3 separate regions of the Homo sapiens genome follow, and all the other regions are linked to region 2. The links come from fine-mapping of genetic effects on gene expression. A gene starts in region 2. Each other region holds a variant in brackets. All regions are shown on one strand. Distances are between the middles of the regions. Region 1 overlaps SLC38A8 (solute carrier family 38 member 8). Region 2 holds the start of DNAAF1 (dynein axonemal assembly factor 1). Region 3 overlaps CDH13 (cadherin 13).

Evidence for each region.
Region 1: its variant is fine-mapped to the expression of DNAAF1 in left ventricle (GTEx, PIP 0.97).
Region 3: its variant is fine-mapped to the expression of DNAAF1 in testis (GTEx, PIP 0.91).

Annotation. Positions count from the first base shown.
Region 1 is chr16:84,021,460-84,028,407 of GRCh38, forward strand. SLC38A8 (solute carrier family 38 member 8) reads right to left here. Exons shown (of 11, transcript NM_001080442.3): 7 at 1,316-1,430. Among named protein-coding and RNA genes, the nearest start is that of SLC38A8, 18 kb to the right of the region's middle. RefSeq lists an enhancer at 5,665-6,166. The variant G/C (reference allele first, on the strand shown) is at 2,035.
Region 2 is chr16:84,140,585-84,147,833 of GRCh38, forward strand. It overlaps DNAAF1 (dynein axonemal assembly factor 1), which reads left to right and starts at 4,724. Exons shown (of 12, transcript NM_178452.6): 1 at 4,724-4,980. The coding sequence starts at 4,857. It overlaps HSDL1 (hydroxysteroid dehydrogenase like 1), which reads right to left and starts at 4,593. Exons shown (of 6, transcript NM_031463.5): 1 at 4,496-4,593. RefSeq lists silencers at 4,018-4,067, 4,118-4,167, 4,328-4,777.
Region 3 is chr16:83,348,516-83,355,824 of GRCh38, forward strand. The region is part of intron 6 of CDH13 (cadherin 13); the gene reads left to right. Among named protein-coding and RNA genes, the nearest start is that of CDH13-AS1, 47 kb to the right of the region's middle. The variant T/C (reference allele first, on the strand shown) is at 4,141.

The DNA.
Region 1 (6,948 bases), 120 kb before region 2:
ACTCCAGCTTCCAAAACCTTGTTCCTCAGTTCCGTCTGAAACCTCCTCAGAACAGACTTTACTATCCATATTTCCATGACTAACTAGAGTATCTAAGAAGTTCCAAATGTTCCCTAGTCTTGTCTCTAAGCCCTCACCAGAATCTAGGCTTATTCTAGCCTGCTCCTCCGAATTCTTCCAGCCTGCACTCATTGCCCAGCTCCAAAGCCGCTTCCACGTTCCAGGTAGTCAATCATCAACACCCCACTCTTGATACCAATTTTCTGTCTTAGTCCATTTTTTGTTGGTTACAACAGAATGCCTGAAATTGAGTAATTTATACAGAAAGGAAATTTTTTTACAGTTATGGAGATTGAGAAGTCCAGGATCAAGAGGCTACATCTGGGGAGAGCCTTCTTGCCGGAGGGGACTTTGCAGAGCCCTGAAGTGGCGCGCAGAGTGTCACATGGCAAGGGGGCTGAGTGTGTGAGCCCAGGTCTCTCTTCTTCTTCTTATAAAGCCACCAGCCCCACTCCCATGATAACCTATTAATCCACTAATCCATGAATAGATTAATCCATTCTTGAGGGCAGAGGCCTCATGCCCCAATCCCCTCTTGAAGGCCCCACGTCTCAATGCTACCACATCAGGGATTAAATTTCAACCTGAGTTTTTAAGAGGATAAATATTCAAACCATAACACACAGGAGTCCAAGGCTGCCTGAGAGATTCACTGCAGCCCAAGAGCTTCCTAGACTGGAGGATACGTTGGTGAATGAAAAAAGACTGGCGTCAAGTGGCCAACCAGAAGCCAGCCGTGCCAGGGACCTGGGACTGTCCTTCCAATGCACTGTACGATCCTGCGTGTCACAGCCCCTCTCTGAGCCACACTTTCATCACCTTTAAAGACCCTCTGCCTCCCACACACAGTTTGTGAGCACCTGAGTCCACTGCACCCACAAACGTTTTGTAAACCCTACCCAGATGTTACAGTGTAATGACGGACAGCAGTCAATGTCCTTTGAACAGCAGGCAGCAGGGCTGGGGTGTGGTGTGTCAGAGCACGGGCTTTGGAGACGGCTAGGCTGGAGTTCAGGTCTCAGCTTTGCAGATCTAGCTGTGAAACCTCGAACAAGTTCTGGAGGGCACCTGAGCCTCAGCTTCCTCATCTATGAAATGAGGCCTTTTCCTATGCACACTAAGGATTAAATAAGATGCTCAAAACATTGAGTATTGAGCCCAGCACGTGGTAAACTCTCTAGAGAGATACTCGCTGTTACTCTTGTTTCTACTGTCACTCCCCACCCTCTGCAGGGGTGCCTGGGAAGGGCCTTACCCGTCAGTGAATAGATGAGGCAGCAGGCCAGCAAGGACAGCACAGACACCAGGGCCCAGTGGGAGAGGCTCCGTTTGCGCATGCTGCAGTAGATGGAGACGGCAGCTTCGTGACACTGTAAGACAGAGGGCGGCTCAGCAGGATGCTGGCTTCCCCTGGAACAGGCGATGCGAAAAAAAACTCATATCCAAAAGGCGGGAAATGTGGGATATGATGAGGTTTCTCTTGAAATAGCCTGATCAATCCTTTATTCTTTAATTCACAGTACACCCCCAACCCCTCTTTCCTTTTCTCCTTCCTTTCTGCCTTTGTTACATGCCCAAACACGCCACAGTACCAGGCATTATCAATACAAGCTCGCATTCCTTTCCTTATTTTTTAAAAAACTAGCTCTCTAGCTCATTACAAACACCCACTGCCCCTTTCCCCTCTCTCCCTTACCTGCCCACCTTATCTAAAAAAAAGTTCAAATGTTCAACTGAGGCTAGTTTAGATTGTGCGGCCCAACCCCAGCCAATGGGAAAAGGGTACAGGAGCAGGACTTGCATCAGGAATAAAGGCTCTTGTACTCCTTTGCTCGGGTGTGCTCTGACCAAGAAAAAGCACCCCTCTGCACAAAAGTAAAATTACTTTGCTAAGAATCCTTTCAGTGTTCCGTTTTCTTAAGATTTTGAGCGTTATTCCCAACAGAACCCACATGCCCACCAAGAGCAGAGGGC[G/C]TAAGTAAATGGCAGGATACTAACACACAGAGCATGATGTGGCTCTGACAAAGAACCATGCACCTCAACACAGACGAATCTCAGTCAGAACAATGAACACCACAGGAAGCCACATAGGTGCCGGGCACGCTGGCTCGCACCTGTCACCCCAGCACTTTGGGAGGCCGAAGGGGGCAGATCACTTGAGGTCAGGAGTTTGAGACCAGCCTGGCCAACATGGCAAAATTCCATCTCTACTTAAAATACAAAAATTAGCCGGGCATGGTAATGAGCACCTGTAATCCCAGCTACTCAGGAAGCTGAGGCAGGTGAATCACTGGAATTCGGGAGGCGGAGGTTGCAGTGAGCCAAGATCGTGCCACTGCACTCCAGCCTGAAAGACACAGTGACACTGTGTCTCAAAAGAAAAACAAGCCGGGCAGCAGAGAATGTTTCCGTTAATGGATGCGAAGTCCAAGTTACAAGATAAACACTTCTACACCAGGGTTTCTCAGCCTTGACACGATTGATGTCTGGTGTGGGTTAACTCTTGGCAGCCGCCCTGTGTGTTTGGGGTGGGGGTGTTGTGCAGTGTCCCTGGCCGGGACCTACTACATGCCAGTAACAGCCCCCCTCCCCCAAGTTGTGACAACCCAAAATGTCTGCAGACATGGTCAAATGTTCCCTGGGGGTATAACCAACCCACGCAAACCCCACTCTGTGGTGCTAGAAGGCAGGATGGTGGTTTGGGTAGGGTGGGTGCTACTGACCAGAAAAGGTCATGAAGGGGTTCCCGGGGGCTTGACCATGTCACATGGGTGCACACATACTTAGAATCTACATACTGTATATGTGACATGCCATATTGGGGTAAGCATTTTTTTTTGGTAGAGATGACTTCTTACTACATTGCCCAGGCTGGTCTCAAACTCCTGAGTTCAAGCGACCCTCCTGCTTTGGCCTCCCTAAGTGCTGAGATTACAAGTACGAGCCACCATGCCCAAGGGGGATAAGAATTTTAAACGCAGGAGGGAGCGGTGGCTCACGCCTGTAATCCCAGCACTTTGGGAGGCCAAGGCGTGTGGATCACCTGAGGTCTGGAGTTCGAGACCAGCCTGGCCAACATGGTGAAACCCCGTCTCTACTAAAAGTATAAAAATTAGTCAGGTGTGGTGGCAAGCACCTGTAATCCTAGTTACTTGGGAGGCTAAGGCAGGAGAGTCGCTCAAGCCTGGGAGGCAGAGTCTCGCTCTGTCACCCAGAATGGACTGAAGTGGCGCGAACTTGGCTCGCCGCAACCTCCGCCTCCCGGGCTTAAGCGACTCTCCTGCCTCAGCCTTCCGAGTAGCTGGGATTACAGGCACGCCCAGCTAATTTTTTATATTTTTGGTAGAGACAGGGTTTCACCATGTTGTCCAGGCTGGTCTCATACTCCTGACCTCAAGTGATCCTCCCACCTCGGCCTCGCAAAGTGCTGGGATTACAGGCGTGAGCCACCAAGCCCAGTGCAAGAATTTTTTTAACGCAAAACATACACAGTCAATGCCAAGAGCCCATGAGTCATGTGAATTCATTTCCCTGGGTGGGTCGTGGACATTGGTGATTCACGAACAGCCAAGAGAATACTGATGTACAGCCAGGGCTGGGCAGGGAGGCTCTGCTCTGTCCAGACACACCGGGCGGGGATGCTTTTTCCGGACACACTGGTGGGTTCAGGGTTCTTCCCAGGCTCCTGGGGCTGGTTCCCACCATCACACCCACTCTCTCACTCCTGGCCAAAACCAAACGTGCCAAGGCCTCATTCCTGCCCGCCCTGTAGGGACCCTACGCAGGAAGCTCAGATCAGCTAGGTCTTCCCTCCGCGCCTCAGGGCCTTTGCTACTGCTGGTCCCTCTGGCCGGATTTTCTCCGAGTCCAGCCAACTCCTCTGCACCCTCCTGGGGAGCCCTCCCGAGTGGGCTGGTTTCCTCTCTCACACAGCCCGTGTCCTCAACACGAGCGGGCTTTTCGGTTTGTCTACTCAGCGTCTCTCAACCACACGACAACAACGACCAAGTCTGCGTTGCTCAGGGCTCTGAGCTTGGGCCAGGATCGGAGCCTGCACCGAGCTGAATAAACACTACAGGGCTTACCCACCTACCCATCCCGTGAACCCACCCAGCAGCCACCAGGCCTCCCTCCACCCAGCCTCGCTCTGTCACTCATGAGTCCTCCTCGGTGCAAGTGAGCCAAGCCAAGGAAACAAGCCCAGCACAGCTGTCCTCTCACCCCCAGGACACATTCTGGAAATATAGGAGGGCACAGTGGCCTCCTCCCTCCGGCTTCCAGCCCTAGTTGAGCACAGCCCTTCCGCTGGCGCGTTGACCTCAGGCACCGCGCACCCCTGCTCTCTGGCCCCAGGTTTCCTGTCCTACAGGAGGGCTCTGCCAGCAGGGGGGACGCAACCCCTCTGCCTCCTGCACCCCCGCAGCACTTGTGGGGCTCACCCCACACTCTCAGGTCAGCCCTGTGGTCCTAGAGCCCCAGTGCCCACAATGGGGACCTCCGTGCACCAGCACCTCAGCCCCATGGCAGGCTCTGCCTTCAGGGCACGGCAGATGCCCCGAGGTGGGGAGTCCCCGAACGGCAGCTCTGCGTATAGGGGCACAGCTGAGTCCAATATAAGGGAAAAGACAGTTAGTAGTGCCAGACAGGTTGGTGGGCAGGAGGGTGCCTCCTTTTCTCCCTGTTTGACTCCGCAGTTGGGTTTCTACTGGTGTTTTGTTTTGTTTTTTTGAGACAGAGTCTCGCTCCATCGCCCAGGCTGGAGTACAGTTGCATGATCTTGGCTCACTGCAACCTCCACATCCTGGGTTCAAGGGATTCTGATTCAGCCTCCCAAGTAGCTGGGATTACAGGCCCGCACCGCCATGCCCGGCTAATTTTTGTATTTTTAGTGAAGATGGGGTTTCACCATGTTGGCCAGGCTGGTCTTGAACTCCTGACCTCAGGTGATCCACCCGCCTCGGCCTCTTAAATTCCTGGGGTTACAGGCATGAGCCACCGTGCCCAGCCTCTACTGGTTTTATAAGGGGAAGCAGAGCAGGCCTGCTGAGGGCAGGCAGTACCCAGGAGGTGGTGGCAGTGGGCAGTTGCTCGGTGATGGAAGGAGACAGGAAGACGACACAGTGGCCAAAAAGTGGACCCCACCCAGATGCCCATCAAAGGACAGGGGATAAAGCGCAGCTTATCCACACAATGGAATATTATTTGACCACAGATAGGGTGGCTACAACATGGATGAATCCCACCAACACGGCGGGGGAGGGAAGCCTGTCTTAAAAGGCCACAATAGGATTCCATTCCTAGGAGGTGGCCATCGTAGGCAAATCCAGACAGACAAGAAGTGCAAGAGCTGCGGGCAGAGGTGGAGAATGGAGAGTGACTGACGGCGATGGGTTTCTTCGAGGGGCAACAGAAAGGTTCTCAATTGACTGTGGTGATGGTTGCACAGCTCTGACTGTACTAAAATCCATTGCACTGCACACTTCAGAAGGGTGAATGGCACGGTATATGCATCCTATCTCAATAAAGATATTTTTTAAAACCACAAAAACCAGCCAGGCACAGTGGCTCACGCCTGTAATCCCAGCACTTTGGGAGGCTGAGGTGGGCAGATCAAAAGGTTAAGAGATCGAGACCAGCCTGGCCAACGTGTTGAAACCTCGTCTCTACTAAAAATACAAAAATTAGCTGGACGTGGTGACAGGCGCCTGTAATCCCAGCTACTCAAGAGGCTGAGGCAGGAGAATCGCTTGAACCCAGGAGGCGGAGGCTGCAGTGAGCCAAGATCACACCACTGCACTCCAGCCTGGGCGACAGAGCAAGTCTGCCACAAAAGCAAAATTAAAACAAACAAACAAACAAACAAACAAACACACACTAGAAGTCCTGGTGTAGCCGCATTGGCTGGGAGTGGACACAACCCCTCTGCTCCTGAGGCCCCTCTCACTGACTGGACAGGCCTGGGGCGGGGGTGCCCCATTGCCAAATGTGTTTGGGCGGGGACGCTGTGTTTGAGTCAGGTCAGAGTTCCTGATGACAGTATGTGACCGTCCCTTTCCTGCAGCCCTCTCCAGCCTTACCCCCTTTTCCCAGCACCTTCAGTTACATTTATTCTCCCCCGCTTCAGATCCTGGCAGCCCCCACCTCTAGCCTGAGCCCCTACTCCCACTCCTTCAGTTCCTATCCTTCCCAGCTCTTCATCTCGGCATCCCGTGTCCCTGGAAACGCAGCCCAGGCCTCGTTGCTAGGAGAATCCGGTGAGGGCTGGAGGCAAAGGTGAGGGGCACCCCTTGCAAGCATCGGGGAGGCGGCCCCGGCGTAGGTCTGCTGCACCATATGGCGCTTGGGCACAGAGAGAGGTTCTTAAACTCAGTCCAGACAAACAGTTGACAGCAAAATCAGCTCTTCAGATCTTTCAAAATATTGGGCGTGCAGGAAGCAATGTGAGAAATCCACAGAAGTGGCTTGCTGAGGCCCTGAAGCAGCACGCCGACTGATTACGAGGAAGAGAAATGGAAATGTTTCAAGATTTTTTTTTTTTTTTTCCTAAAAAGGGTTCTCAAAGAAAAGGCAAGATGAAGAACAGAAGCAGAGCTCACTGATGGTCAAGGGAAGAGACGAGCTCAATGGCTACAAAGCTGAGATCCGGTGGTAAACCCTGGACACATCTCCCTGTGGACTTGATTTTACTTTGGAATGGTTTTGTTGGTGCTGGTGGTAGGCAGTGGATAGGTGGTTGTTTTTAGGACATCGAGGCAAATCTTCCCGAAAATAAGCAGCGTGGCCAGGCACGGTGGCTCACGCCTATAATCCTAGCACTGTGGGAGGCCGAGGAGGGCAGATCGCTTGACGTCAGGAGTTCAAGACCAGCCTGGCCAACATAGTGAAACT
Region 2 (7,249 bases):
AAAGTATGTAAAACCTATTATGCACAGTTCAAAGAATAATAAAACAGCCACTTAGCCACCAGCCTACTTAACAAAACCAGTGTCGTGGAAGTCCTGTATGCTGTTCCTCTGATTACAGCCCCTCCTCTATCCTGGAGGCAGCCTCTCTCCTAAATTCTGGGGTAGTCACTCCCTGACTCTTTTAACAAAACAGCTGTATACCCCAAGCATGTATTCTGAAACAGTAACAGTATTGCTGGCCGGGCGCGGTGGCTCACGCCTGTAATCCCAGCACTTTGGGAGGCCGAGGCGGGCGGATCACGAGGTCAGGAGATCGAGACCACGGTGAAACCCCGTCTCTACTAAAAATACAAAAAATTAGCCGGGCGCAGTGGTGGGCGCCTGTAGTCCCAGCTACTCGGGAGGCTGAGGCAGGAGAATGGCGTGAACCCGGAAGGCGGAGCTTGCAGTGAGCGGAGATCGCGCCACAGCACTCCCGCCTGGGCGACAGAACGAGACTCCGTCTCAAACAAAAAAAAAAACAGTATTGCTAAGTTTCGCCTGGTTTTGAACCTCACATAAAGGAACCACACCACATGGACCCTTTGGTGACTTGTTTCTTTCACTCAACATCATTCCCGAGACTCATCCATGCCCCTGCAGCTATATAGTCCATCCTCCTCGGCAGCTGCACAGTATCTCACGGTTCAGATGCACTGCAGTTCACAGGTCCCCCTGCTGCTGGTTCAGATACACCACGATTCACAGGTCCCCCTGCTGCTGGTTCAGATACACCACGATTCACAGGTCCCCCTGCTGCTGGTTCAGATACACCACGATTCACAGGTCCCCCTGCTGCTGGTGCTAGGCACGTGCACTGTTTCTGCTGGTTTTGATTTACAGTTAGGAACAGTGCTGCAGGGAGCGCTTGTCCCCATCTCCTGCACACCTGTGCAAGAGTTCGCAAAGGGATTTGCCCATGGTTTAACTGCTGGTCCACATGCATTCCACTGCCAAATGCTTTTGCAAAGCGGCAGAACCCATTCACACTCCCGCCAGCAGCAGGTTCGTGCCACTCCTCAATGTCACTGGCTGGTAGCGTCCAAAGCTTCACCTTCTGCCAACAGGGTGGCTGTGAAATGGTATCTCATTATGGTTTTAATTTACATTTCCCTGGTTACTAGTAAGGCTGCAGTCCTTTTTATATGTATGTGCTTTCTGTGTTTTGTAATCTATGAAATGCCCGTTCCTATCTTTTGTCCTTTCCTTTTTTTTCTCTCAGAATTGTAAGAATTCTTTAAATATTCTAGATACTAGCTCTCTGTATGTTTTGTGTCTCATTATAGTGTCTTTCATGAACTAAATGTGTTGTTATTATTATTGAGACAAGGTCTGGCTCTATTGCCCAGCCTGATGTGCAGTGGCATGATCACAGCTCACTGCAACCTCCGCCTTCCGGGCTCAAGCCATCCTCCCACCTCAGCATCTCAAGTAGCTGGGACACAGGCATGTACCACCAAGCCCAGTTAAATTTTTTTTGTGTGTGTAGAGATGAGGTTTCACCATGTTGCCCAGGCTGGTCTCAAACTCGTAAGCTCAAACCATTCACCTGCCTTGGCCTCCCAAAGTGCTGGGATTACAGGTGGGAGCCACTGCACCTGGCTGAATGTCTTAATTTTGAAAGAGACAAATATATCAATCTTTCTGCTTTAGGGTTTGTTTTATTTCAGAAATCCCTCCTTAGCCTCAGGTCATGAAGAAATTTTTTCGAATTATTTTCTAGAAATTTTACATTTTTGCTTTTTCAGTTTAAGTCTTTAATCCTCCTGGCGTTTTGTGATGGTGTGAGGCTGGGATCTCACACATCTTTTTTTTTTTTTTTTTTTTTTTGAGACAGAGTCTCACTCTGTCACCCAGGCTGGAGTGCAATGGCGCGATCTTAGCTCACTGCAACCTCCTCCTTCCAAGTTCAAGCAATTCTTCTGCCTCAGCCTCCCAAGTAACTGGGACTACAGGCGTGTGCCACCATGCCTGGCTAATTTTTGTATTTTTTTCTTTTTTAGTAGAGACGGGGGTTTCACCATATTGGCCAGGCTGGTCTTGAACTCCTGACCTTGTGATCCGCCCACTTTGGCCTCCCAAAGCACTGGGATGTGACCGGCCGGATCTCACACATCTTTAATATTCCTCCTCAGCACCTGACATGCTGCTGTAGACAACTTTATTTAATAAACAGAATCAAATACTGCTTTGTGTTCAAAGCTCAAATTTCACTCTTGAGAAAAAAACTTAAGCTTTTCATACTCTGCGTCAGCACTATGACAAAGTTAGCATTGGTGTATCAAGACTTTTTGGGATGTCTTTACCTTCACTGCCAATTTTTGGTATAGGACTAAACGCACAATGAAGCTGAGCCTAAAGAGCAGCAACATGGAATTAGAAACCTGGATTCTCATCCAAGATCCAACACTCTTCACCATCATGTCTGTATTTATGCAGTAAGAATTAAAATATTCAGAGTACCCCACTCCTAGGCAGATACCCAAGATAATTAGAAACTTTTGCTCACATAAAAACTCCTGCTTGCATGTTCACAGTGGCCTACTCACAACTGCCAGAAGGCAGAAACAAACAAAATGTCCATCAACAAATGAATGAATAAGCAAAATGTGGTGTTATCCACACAAAGGAGTATTATTCAGCCATAAAAAAGCATGAAGTACTGATACATACTACAACATGGATAAACTTTGAAAACATTATGCTAAAGGACAGAAACCAAATACAAAAGGCCGTATGTTGTATGTTTCCACTTGTATGAAATGTCCAGCATAAGCAAATCCATAGAGACAGAAGATAACTTAGGGCTGCTGAGGGACAGGGGGAGAAAAGAGGTATGACTGTTAATGGGGTTGGGGTTTCTTTTGTAGGTGATTAAATGTTCTGGAATTAGTTACTGGTGATGGTTGCATAGCATTGTGACTATAGCAAGAACTACTGAGTTATACACTGTAAAATGGCTAAAATGATAAATTTTATGTCATGCGTAAGTCATTTCGATTTTTGAAAACCTACTTTAAAAAAAAGTAGCACCAATATGTTCAACTCTGTTGCCCTAGAATATTCCAGCAGTGATTAAAACCACAAACTTGGCCGGGTACAGTGGCTCATGTCTGTAACCCCAGAACTTTGGGAGGCCAAGGCGGGCAGATCACTTGAGGCCAGGAGTTCAAGGCTACCCTGACCAACACAGCGAAACCCCGTCTCTACTAAAAAAAAAAAAAAAAAAATTAGCTGGGTGTGGTAGAACGTGCCTGTAATCCCAGCTACTCGGAAGGCTGAGGCAGGAGAATCACTTGGGCCCGGGGTGCGGGATGGCGGGCAGAGGTAGCAGGAGCTGAGATCGCAGGCACCATTGCACTACAGCCCGGGCGACAGAGCGAGATTGTCTGAATCAATCAATCAATCAACACCCTCCCCCTCCCCCTCCCTCTCCCTCTCCCTCCCTCCCTCTCTCTCTCTCTCTCTCTCCTGTGGCGGTCAGAGTAAAATTGAGAGCTCACTTTATGCAAAAGACTCTGCTAAGTGCTTTATTCCTATTGTCTCACTTTATTCTCTCATTAATCTTATAAAGCGCAGTCAGACTCTCCCGTTTATAGATGGGGAAATTGAGTCTTATAGATGTAAAGTCGCACACCCAAGACCCCACAACTCAGAAAGGGGCTACCTGCAATTCAGATGGAGGTATAGCAAGGCGCAGAGTCCTGTCCAGGGAGCCCACTGTGAGACCCCCCGACTGCCTCGCAGTCACCTGTACACATCATGTTGGGATCGCCGAGGGGCGCTGCAGCGATCCGGTTTCTGGGGCTGCGTCTGGGTGGCACGTTCAGAACGGGGACCTGCCTGGTTCTTCTTCCCAGCCCTTCCCCTCCAGCACCCGGCAAGGCCCAGTCAACACGAGCAAACTCGGAAATCCTGGCTGAACCCACGACCGCTGCATATTTCCATTTTAGAAAAACACGGCAACAACAACTCAAACCAAATCGTTCAGAAATGAGAATAAAGAAGCACCGACAAAGGAGGCGATTGCTGGGGCCGCTCGGGGGAGGAGCCGGGTGAGAGGCTGCAGGGAGGGCAGGGCATGCGCCGGCGACAACGGGGTTCGCGGTTTGGGGGGCAAGGCCCGGGGGAAGAGAGAGAACAGGGGTGCAGCGCCGCGGCGGGGGGCGTGAGGATGGAGCCGGGGGAAGGGGGGCTCTGAGATGTGAAGGGGCGGGGCTGGGGCTTTTTGGTCTGAAGGAAGGAGTCTCACGGGACGGAGGGACGAAGATTTCCTGGGGTCAGGGGCGCCAAGGGGCTTCGGGGCCGGATGCAGCGGAGGGGGCCCGGGGCCTGGGGGGCGTGGTGAGAGCTCAGAGGGGTCTCGCCAAGCAGCCGGCTGGCGCTGAGGGGACCGAGGAGGGGTCTGGGGCGAAAGGACCGCGAGAGGGCGCCCAGGGCGCGGGGGGCGCGGTACCTGCAGGCCGGCAAAGTCTTCCAAACCGGTCCCGCCAGACCCGCGCGGCCGCCGCCCCCGTCTCGGCCGCCGGAGCTGCTGCCGCGCCGCGCCCTCACGTGACCCGCGTACGCGCCGGGGGCGGAGCCGTCTCAGACCCGCCCCCACCCCCCGGCGTCCCCAGCGCGCCGGTCCGTCCCGAGTGCGCGTGCGCAGCGGTTGCCTGGGCGACCGGGGAAGCGTTGGGCTGTAAAGACTAGGGCGCCAGCGGCTGGCGAAGAAGGAAAGAGGGTACTCTCTGGCTGGGCTGGGGCCGTAGCGACGTCCGCCGCGAACCTGGGCCCCCCAAAGCTGCGGGGCGTTCGGTGTCGCCGAAGTAAACATGCACCCTGAGCCCTCGGAGCCTGCGACAGGTGGTGCAGCAGAGCTGGATTGCGCGCAGGAGCCCGGCGTGGAGGAGTCTGCGGGTGACCACGGGAGCGCAGGCCGAGGGGGCTGCAAGGAAGGTGCCGACTGCCCCCCAGGGAGGGCGGTGGGCGAGGGGCAGACACGGCTAGGCGCTCCAGCCCCCTTCCCACACCACATACCCGATCTTCACAGCCAAATAATAACAATAATAATAATGGTAGCAAGCAACGCTCTGCAGTAGGGGCTTCTCTCGCCATTTCGTACTGAGGAGGAAACATACTTAAGAGGTTACAAAACTTGCACCAAACAGATAACCCTCGGCTAGTCAGTGACAGAAGAGACTTGGCCGGGTGCGGTGGCTCAACGCCTGTAATTCCAGCACTTTGGGAGGCCGAGGCGGGCGGATCATCAGGTCAGTCAGGAGTTCGAGACCAGCCTGGCCAACATAGTGAAACCCTGTCTCTACTAAAAATACAAAAAATGAGCTGGGCGTGGTGGCGGGCGCCTGTAGTCTCAGCTACTTGGGAGGCTGAGGCAGGAGAATCGCTTGAACCCGGGAGGCGGAGGTTGCAGTGAGCCAAGATCTCGCCATTGCATTCCAGCCCGGACGACAGTGGGAGACTCCGTCTCAAACAAACAAACAAACAAACAAGCAAACAAAACCCACCAGACTCAGGCCCAGACAGTCTGGGTCTCCAGAGCCCCAGCCCTAACCCACCACGCTATTCTCCCTGGTCCCAACTTTGATGCTTTAAATGTGTCCCTTTATTGCTATCACTATGTAAGATCAAAGGCTTTCTCTCCCTCCAGACTGCATGTTGTGTCAGGGCAAGACATCTTGATTGAATTTGGAGTCTAGTCCAGTGCCTGACCTAGGGTAGAGAGTCCGAATGAAGACTTGGTTCTGGGGTCAGTGTGTGATCCCCTCACCAAAGTTTGCCAGAATGGACTTGAAAGATAACCTTCATGGCCAGGCACGGTGGCTCACGCCTGTAATCCCAGCAATTTGGGAGGCAGAGGCAGGTGGGTCACCTGAAGTCAGGAGTTCGAGACCAGTCTGGCCAACATATTGAAACCCTGTCTTTGCTAAAAACACAAAAATTAGCAGGGCGTGGTGACGTGCTCCTGTAATTCCACTTACTTGGGAGGCTAAGGCAGGAGAATTCCCTGAACCCCGGAGGCAGAGGTTGCAGTGAGCCAAGGGGGAGGCTGAGGCTGCAGTGAGCCAAGATCACACCACTGCACCCCAGCCTGGGCAATGGAGCAAGACTCCGTCTCAAAAAAAAAAAAGGAAAGAAGGAAGCCTGGCTTCAGCTTCTGCTCCCACTAGACTTGGTGCCCTAAAGGAAACCTTTTAGTGATTACATTAAAAAACCACTTGATTTGTGTTCCAGTTTCTGAACGCAGGCAACAAATAAACCAGCTGATTTGTGTTCCAGGCAACAAATATATCTTAAGCATCAACTGTCCAGATGAACCTTGTATGAGGAGCCATAGGGAACTGGCATTACTCAGTGGAAAGACACTGGTCTTGGAGCCATTGACACTGGGTTCAAGTTGAGGCTCAGCAGCTGGCCAGCTTTATGGCTGTTGGCCCAGAGCTTAACCTCTCGGAGCCTTAGTCTCCTCATCTGTAAGCTGGAATAATTATACAGGAGTATAAGGAGAGAATTATAATTAAATGTCCCAGCATATAGTGGGCCATTATTAAATGGTAGCTCTTGTTATTAATTACATATTAATATTTATATATTGAGCGCTTATTCTTTATTTTTTCCACAAACATTTATCTGTTGCTTCCTGTGGCTGGGCATTCTATGCAAAATTGATGAGTTTAAGAACCAGTCCCCACACGCACAGCCTTTAGTCTTGTTCAATAGACCACACAAACACAGAAAGCAGCAGACAACAGCTCTTAAAGTTAAGTGCGGTTGAATTGGCCAATTTTGAATGACCTTTAAAAAAATTATTCATTTGAATGTGCTCATGTTATTGTTATCATAGATATTCTCACTATTTTTGTTTCTTTTCATGTGATTTTCCTTTTTATGATTTTTTTTTTAAGAGATGGAATCTCACTATGTTACCCAGGCTAGATCTTCCTGCCTCAGCCTCCTGAGTAGCTGGGACTACAGGCATGCTCCACTACACCTGGCTTCAGAAATTTTTTAAAAGACAAAAGAACAAAGAACATTAAAACAAATACCCGTGTTTTGCCAGCAAGAATTGAAAATGAGTAACATTTTATCATATTTATTTGAAGTCTTTTTTAATTAAAGAAATAAGCCCCCCCCAAAAAAAAAATAAAAATAAATAAGGGTGGGCACGGTGGCTCACGCCTGTAATCCCAGCACTTTGGAAGGCCAA
Region 3 (7,309 bases), 790 kb before region 2:
CATGCTCAGAAGGGCCTGGGGCTTGGTTTAGCGTTCTGCTGTCACCATGTTGAAATTCTTAATAATTGTTGAACAAGGTGTCTGCATTTTCATTTTACACTGAGCGTCACAAATTATGTGGCTGTTCCTGCTCACAGCATTGTAGCCTAGAGCTGTGTTTGACGCTGTGCTCAGCTATTTAACACGGTGTGATATTGGGCAAGTTACTGAACCTTCTAGGACCCTCTGCAAATGGGGATAGAATATAACAGTAGCTACCTTAGAGAAGTATATGTGAGGATTCAGTGAGACAACATGCTTCACCCAGTGCTTAGGGAACAGTAAATGTACAATGAATGCCTTTGTATTGTTAACAGTGCAATTATTATTTTTATTCTGGAAGAGTACCCTTTAGCAAAGGTAAAGCAAAGAGACACATGAGTTGTGTGAAGACAAATTCATCTTCCAGCAAACCACGCGTCATTTTCATGTCCCCATGTGTTCGAATGCCCTCGGCACCAATCTATCACAAAGGAAGGTCACCCATATTTATCTGTATGTGCAGACAGGAGACCATTCCGGCTGCTCAGCACTGAACTCCGGGGTATTGTTTTGGTGAATCATTCCTGGATGAAGGAAGATCAGCAGAACATAATGGTCTTTGACTTTGCAGATCGTGAGCTGTTGCTTTTGCAGAGCCACAGACATTGATTTATGAGGCCCAAGCCAAGGCTCTGGCTGCTCCTTGGGGGCATACAGATCTCTGTGTGAGTTTGGTGTTTTCTGATGGCCAAGACATGGTGTTCATGAGTAGGGGGTAGAGGGTGAGAACTCTTGAAATTCCTGGAGGGCACTAATTCCAAGGCCCCATCATGTCTTGTTGGCATCAATTCATGGGTGTTTTGCCCTCTGGTGGTTTCCTGGGCACCTTTGAGAATGGCTGACCATGAGGAATGGCATGTCAGGCTCCCACAGAAGCAGGCCCTGAGATGAAGATTGAGGCCTGCCTGTGGTTTGCTTGAGAGGTACAGGGACAGATACCAGGTAAGGTGAGGTACAGAAAAGGAAGTCAGACAACTTGAGGTGCATTATTATTATTATTATTATTATTATTATCACTATTGAGACGGAGTTTTGCTCTTGTTGCCCAGGCTGGAGTGCAATAGTATGATCTCAGCTCACTGCAACCTGTGCCTCCTGCATTCAAGCAATTCTCCTGCCTCAGCCTCCCGAGTAGCTGGGATTACAGACACCTGCCACCACGCCCAGCTAATTTTTGTATTTTTAGTAGAGATGGGGTTTCACCACATTGGCCAGGCTGGTCTTGAACTCCTGACCTCAGGTTATCCGCCCACCTTGGCCTCCCAAATGCTGGGATTACAGGTGTGAGTCACTGCACCTGGCCCTTGAGGTGCATTATTAAAGCAGCTCCCAGAGTGGGTAACTGCAGCTTTATCCTTTTTGGGGAGCTCAAGGAAATGACATTAAACACATACGTTAGAGTTATCTCAGCTAAGGGGCAGGTAGCTAGAATATCTACTCCCCCAAGTCTGATAATGAGACATAGGTTCAAAGCTGTCCCCAAGGATGGGGGGCTTTAATTTCCAGGCACTTGCCGCCAGCTGTGCGCAAGGGAAACCTGGGATCCATCAGCTCCAATATCCTGTCCTCTTGAGGCCTCGGCCTTCCAACAACATCAGGAGCTGGCTGTAGGTTGTGTTCGCTCTCCTGGCTTTTAGCCACCCCAAATGGCAGCCAGGGCAGCTGGGAGAATGGCAGCCCCCCACCCTGGACGGGTGGGGCAGCTTTGAGAAAGATAGGTGGTGAGAGGTCACAGAAGGAAAGAATTAGCTCCCAAACTGCATGACTGACAAAGATGAATGTGGCATTTACCTAAAGGTGCACGTTCTGTGTCCTGAAAGATGCACATTGCTTAGGCATGTCTGATCCTTCTTCTTGAGGCTGTTGAAGACAAGCAGAGATTAGCAGTTACGTCCTCATTGTCTAACTTCTGAAAGCCCAGCCACTTTCCCTCCCTCTCTTTCCTGTCTTAGTCCCTTTAATTTTTTTTTCCATCCAGTATGCTTAGCAAGCATCTACTCTGTGCTGGCGCTATTCTAAGCTCTGAATGTGCAACACTGGACCTGGCAGGTGCTGCTTGTTCCCTCCTGGTATTCATAGCTGAGGAGGGAGGATAGCATCCAATAAATCAGAAAGAAAATTGCGGCAAGTGCTACAACATAGTTGTATGGGAGGCTCATCTCGGGAGGGGCCAAACCTAGTCTTGTAGTGAGATAGGAGGCCGCTCTGAAGAGATGATGTAGGGAGTTTTTGTCTTTTATTTTTCCTCCAGGATCCACCTGAGTTCCTTTTCAAGACACAGTTCCTTTAATTTTTAAACACATCCAGCCATTCCAGACATAAGAAAAAGCCAGCCGATCAAGTCGCCTTTGGGACTAATGGCTATCCTGAGAGCTCAGCTTTGCTTGGAAGTTGCTATTTTCCAAAACAGCTTGAGCTAAATAAAGATGGCTGGGATAGTTGATAGTTGATATTTGACACCTAGCTCAGCCGATGGTGTTCAGGTTGTTGCTATGGCCTGGTAGTAAAGTCCCTTTTCTGGTTACTTTTTACTTGTTGCAGTAACTGTGATGTGGCTTTTCAACCCATTGACTGTTAATTTTTTTTTGCTGATATTTTCAGACTTTCATGCTGTAGGTTCCTCCATTCTCAACTGCCCCAACCAATCCTATGTGTTTCTGGAATATCAGGCATGTGGCTATTTCTTTTTTTTTTTTTTTTCCTTAGGTAGATATATTTTTTAAAAAATAAATAAAGCAATTCTGTTCTTTTCAAGTGAAAGAAAATGCAGTCACTCTCCAGTGCCACCATCCAGAGATAACCACAGTTGACATTTTAGTGAGTGCAGTTCTGGGGTTCTCTCCTGGCATCTCTACACAGAGAGATGCAGGTGCACAGTTTTACAGAATGGGAGCTCTATGTGCTTTTCCGTAAATCTCTCTCTTCACTCCTCAGGGTCCTATGGACATTTTTGTAAATCAATAAACATCAAGCAACATCATTGTTTCAAACAGCTAGAGTCTGGATCTACCATCGTCTCCTTAACCAATTTCCTATCGATTTAAGTTGTTTTCACTTTTCTACACTTCCATCAATTCTGCAGAAGAGAGCTCATCTCTTCCCATGTTTGTGACAATTTCTATAGGATATATTTACATGAGCTGGATTAATGGGATGGCGGATATGCCCTGTTATGTTTTGATCCCTATTCAGGTGATGCTTCTAATCAGAGGATTTTAGTCTGTATCTTGGCTAAGCTTGTTCATGCAGCAGGATACAATAGTCTTTCTTTTCACACACAAACATACTGATGGATATTTTTGTTTGTTTCTCCAGATGACACTCAGTATCTACAAGTTTTTGTGGTCATTTCACTAGCTGTTTTGTAGATAGTGGATGGCCTTGCTATGGAATCCTTGCTGGATATTGTGGTGGAGGCAGAGGAATGCAGTGGTTGAGACTGGCCCCTTTCCTTAGGTCATCACTGGAATTTTAGTGAAGAAGTGCTGCCCAGGGATGGCATCATTAACATGCTGCAGAGCCCTTGAGCTTGGAGGAGACAGCACTTGAGTTATGGTACAATTCACTGTAAATGTGTTTTATGGTCGCCTAAAATGTGTTTAGGTGACCATAAAACACGTTTTATGAAAGAGTTGCATAATCCAATCAGAGACCATTTCCCAAAAGGAAAATTCACAGCTAAATGGAATGAAAAGTATTATCTGAACTTCACTAGCTATTGACTCCACCTAGTCGTTCAAGAGGAAAGCGAATGCTTATACATTGTTAGTGGAAATGTAAACAAATACAACTGTATGGAAAGGAGGATGGATAGTTCTCAAAAAACTTAGAATAGAACTACCATTTAATCCAGCAATCCTGCTACTACTGGGCGTCTACACAAAGGAAAAGAAGCCACTGTATCAAAAAAACACCTGCACTCATGGTTATCACTACGTATATTCATCACCACACCATACATACATACACACACACAATGGAATACTATTCAGCCATATAAAAGTATAAAATCAGCCGGGTGCGGTGGCTCACGCCTATAATCCCAGCACTTAGGGAGGG[T/C]GAGGCAGGTGGATCACGAGGTCAGGAGATCGAGACCATCCTGGCTAACACGGTGAAACCCCGTCTCTACTAAAAATACAAAAAATTAGCCAGGTGCTGTGGCAGGCACCTGTAGTCCCAGCTACTCAAGATGCTGAGGTGGGAGAATGGCATGAACCCGGGAGGCGGAGTGTACAGTGAACCGAGATCGTGACACTGCACTCCAGCCTGGGCGATAGAGCGAGACTCCGTCTCAAAAAAATAAATAAATAAATAAAGTATAAAATCATGGCTTTGGCAACAATGTGGATGCCATTATCTTTGGTGAAATAACTCAGAAAGTCAAATACTGCATGCTCTCACTTATAAGTCAGAGCTAAATCATGTGTACACATGGACATAGAGTGTGGAATAATAGACTTTGGAGACTCAGAAGGGTGGAAGCGTGGCAAGGGTGTAACGTGTGAGAAATTGCTTAATGAGTACAATATATGTTACTCAGGTGATAGTTACACTAAAAGCCAAGACGTCAGCACTCTGCCACATGTCCGTGTAACGAAACTGCACTTGTACTGTTAAATCTATACAAATAAAAAAGAAACTGAATCTTTGCCAAGTTGCTCCTAACTATGTCTGAAGGTCCTCTGGTGATATCTCACACCGGCTCAGAACCAAGACAGTCGGCTCCCTTGTCATAGCCATTGGGATTTCCCTCCTCCATATCCCAGGCCCCCACCCTGATGGGCACCATTGCACATGTCAGGCCCGCCCTGATGGGCACCATTGCACATGTTAGGACCCTTGGCTGCTGGCTCATGGGAGCTGGATACCAAAGCATCTGCTGGGACAGGAGAGAATGCCTGAACCCCTTTATTCTGGTAGAAGAGTATCTAACCAACCAACAGAACTGTATGTTTCTTCTTTAATGTGAATAACTGTGAAAACAACTCTTTTCATTTTTATTTATAGCTCTCTCTCCCCCTAAATTCACACATGCATCTCTGGGGCTGGAGATCAGCTCAAGAGATGGACACCCCATTGTTTCCTGAAACACTCTCCTCTCTAACCATGAAGTCTTATTCCTGGACTAGCCTATGTATCTGCCTCTCCTCTGCCCATCACCCATGCTCATATCATTCACATTAGACCTTTGTATTCTGGGTGAACTGGGGAGATGTGGCCCTTGGGTTCACTTTGATTACTTCCTTGTAAAAATAAACGCTTAATAGCCCTGCCCACTAATTTTTTGGATATGATATTTTAGGCCCAAGCCGGGAGTCATCCTTCCATCACTCTATATTTGGAAGAGGGAAGGATTTGTGGCATCAAATATTTAAAAATAAAAGTAAAAATATTAAAATTAATTGAGTAACTTAATTAAAATAATAGTTTAAAGTGGCAGCAGGGCAAAGGAGCATTTGTAGCTTCAGAAATGTAGTGATCATTCTACAGTCTTTTGAAAAGATAAACCTGACAGGAATTTCTAGCGAAAATGAAAATTGGTGACGGTTGAGCAGCTGCAAAGCAAAAGTGAAAAAGTCCTTGAGTTGTCCTAGCACAGAACGTGCTCACCAGCGCCGTTGGATCCTATCCCTGATACCAAAGGATCCACTGTGAATAGCCCAGCAATTTTTAGCACTGCAGCTGAGTAAAACAGAGTGGCAGATCCAAATGTCATTAAACATTTATAATTTCGGGGAAACCCTTATTTCAAATCAATTCTTCATAACCATTTCCTCAGTAAATTCATTCAACAAGTATTTATCGGGCAGTTTCTATGAGTCAGATAATATTATAGGGGCTGGGGATATAGCAGTGACCAAGACCATTTAGAACTCTATTCTTAAGACATTGCCACCTTCCTGGGAGGAGAAAGGTGCCAACAGAAATGGATAAGCCAGATAATTTAAGTTTCGGATAAAATAAAACAAGGTACATTGTTTTATTGACATAAGGTCAAGAAAAGTCCTCTCTAAAGAGGTGATGTTGAAGCTGAGCCCAGTGAAATAAAGGAGCCTACCAAGTAAAGGCATGGAGAAAGGATGTTCCAGACGCAGGGGCCAGGAAGTGCAGAGACCTGAGGCAGGAATGACCTGAGGGACGGTAGTACCAGGTGAGACAGGGAGATGGGCAAGGGCAAGGGCAAGATCGTTCTGAGCATGAGTCAACAAACTATGGGCCATGGGCCAAATGTGTCTCTCTGCCTGTTGTTTTTTAAATAAAGTTTTATTAGAATACACATGTGCCCCTTCATTCATGTATTGACTATGGCTGCTTTCGCACCATATTGGTAGAATTGGGTAGCGGGGACACAGACTGTATATTCCACAGAGGCAAAAGTATGTAATACCTGATCCTCTGCAAATAAAAAGTTTGCAGACCCCTGGCTTAGAACTCCATACATTTTGATTACATTTTAAACTTAGTAGGAAGCCCTTGGGTGGTTTTAAGCGAGGAAATAGATATGATTTTACTGCTGAAAAATGACTTGTGCTATTCTGTGGAGAGAGAAATAGGGAAACAAGGCATTTCAATGTTCTAGGCATGAGAAAACCATGGCAGCTACGGAGATGGAGAGAAGAGATCACATAAAATTTTTACAGCAAGTGTGTGACAAATCGGAAAATTCTAAATATTGAGTCATTTTATGATGCCAGCTTATTATAACTGATGCCATCTATGTGGAATTACAATAATACTGTAAGCCTTAATAGGTTTATAAATTTTCTGCAAGTATAAACCAGAATCTACCTTCAGTTCTCTTTCTCAGCAACACAGTTAAGACCAGGAGAACTGAATGGTTTTCTCTTCATCCTTCAACTTCCAACATTTAGCAGAGTCCCAGGCACAAATTATCCACCCAATAAATTCCACTGGATGAACAAATGGCTCCAAAGGCCAGAAAGCCTGAATCCCGATAAACTGTTTTTTAATTCAATTTTTAAATAAATGGTTGTATTTATTGAAAATGTATTCATTCTTTCAACAAATACCTTTAGAGTACCTGCCGTATACCAGGTATGCTGTTTAATGAGGATGGGGTTGGAGGGGGTGAATGCATGAAACAGAATGGATGCTGACTCTGTAGAGCTTGCAGACGAAAGAGGAAGTCAGTAAATAAAGCATCACTGTTACACAGGGGAACGTCAGTTTTCAACTGCTACACAGGGGAGCATCTCTCTAGGATTAA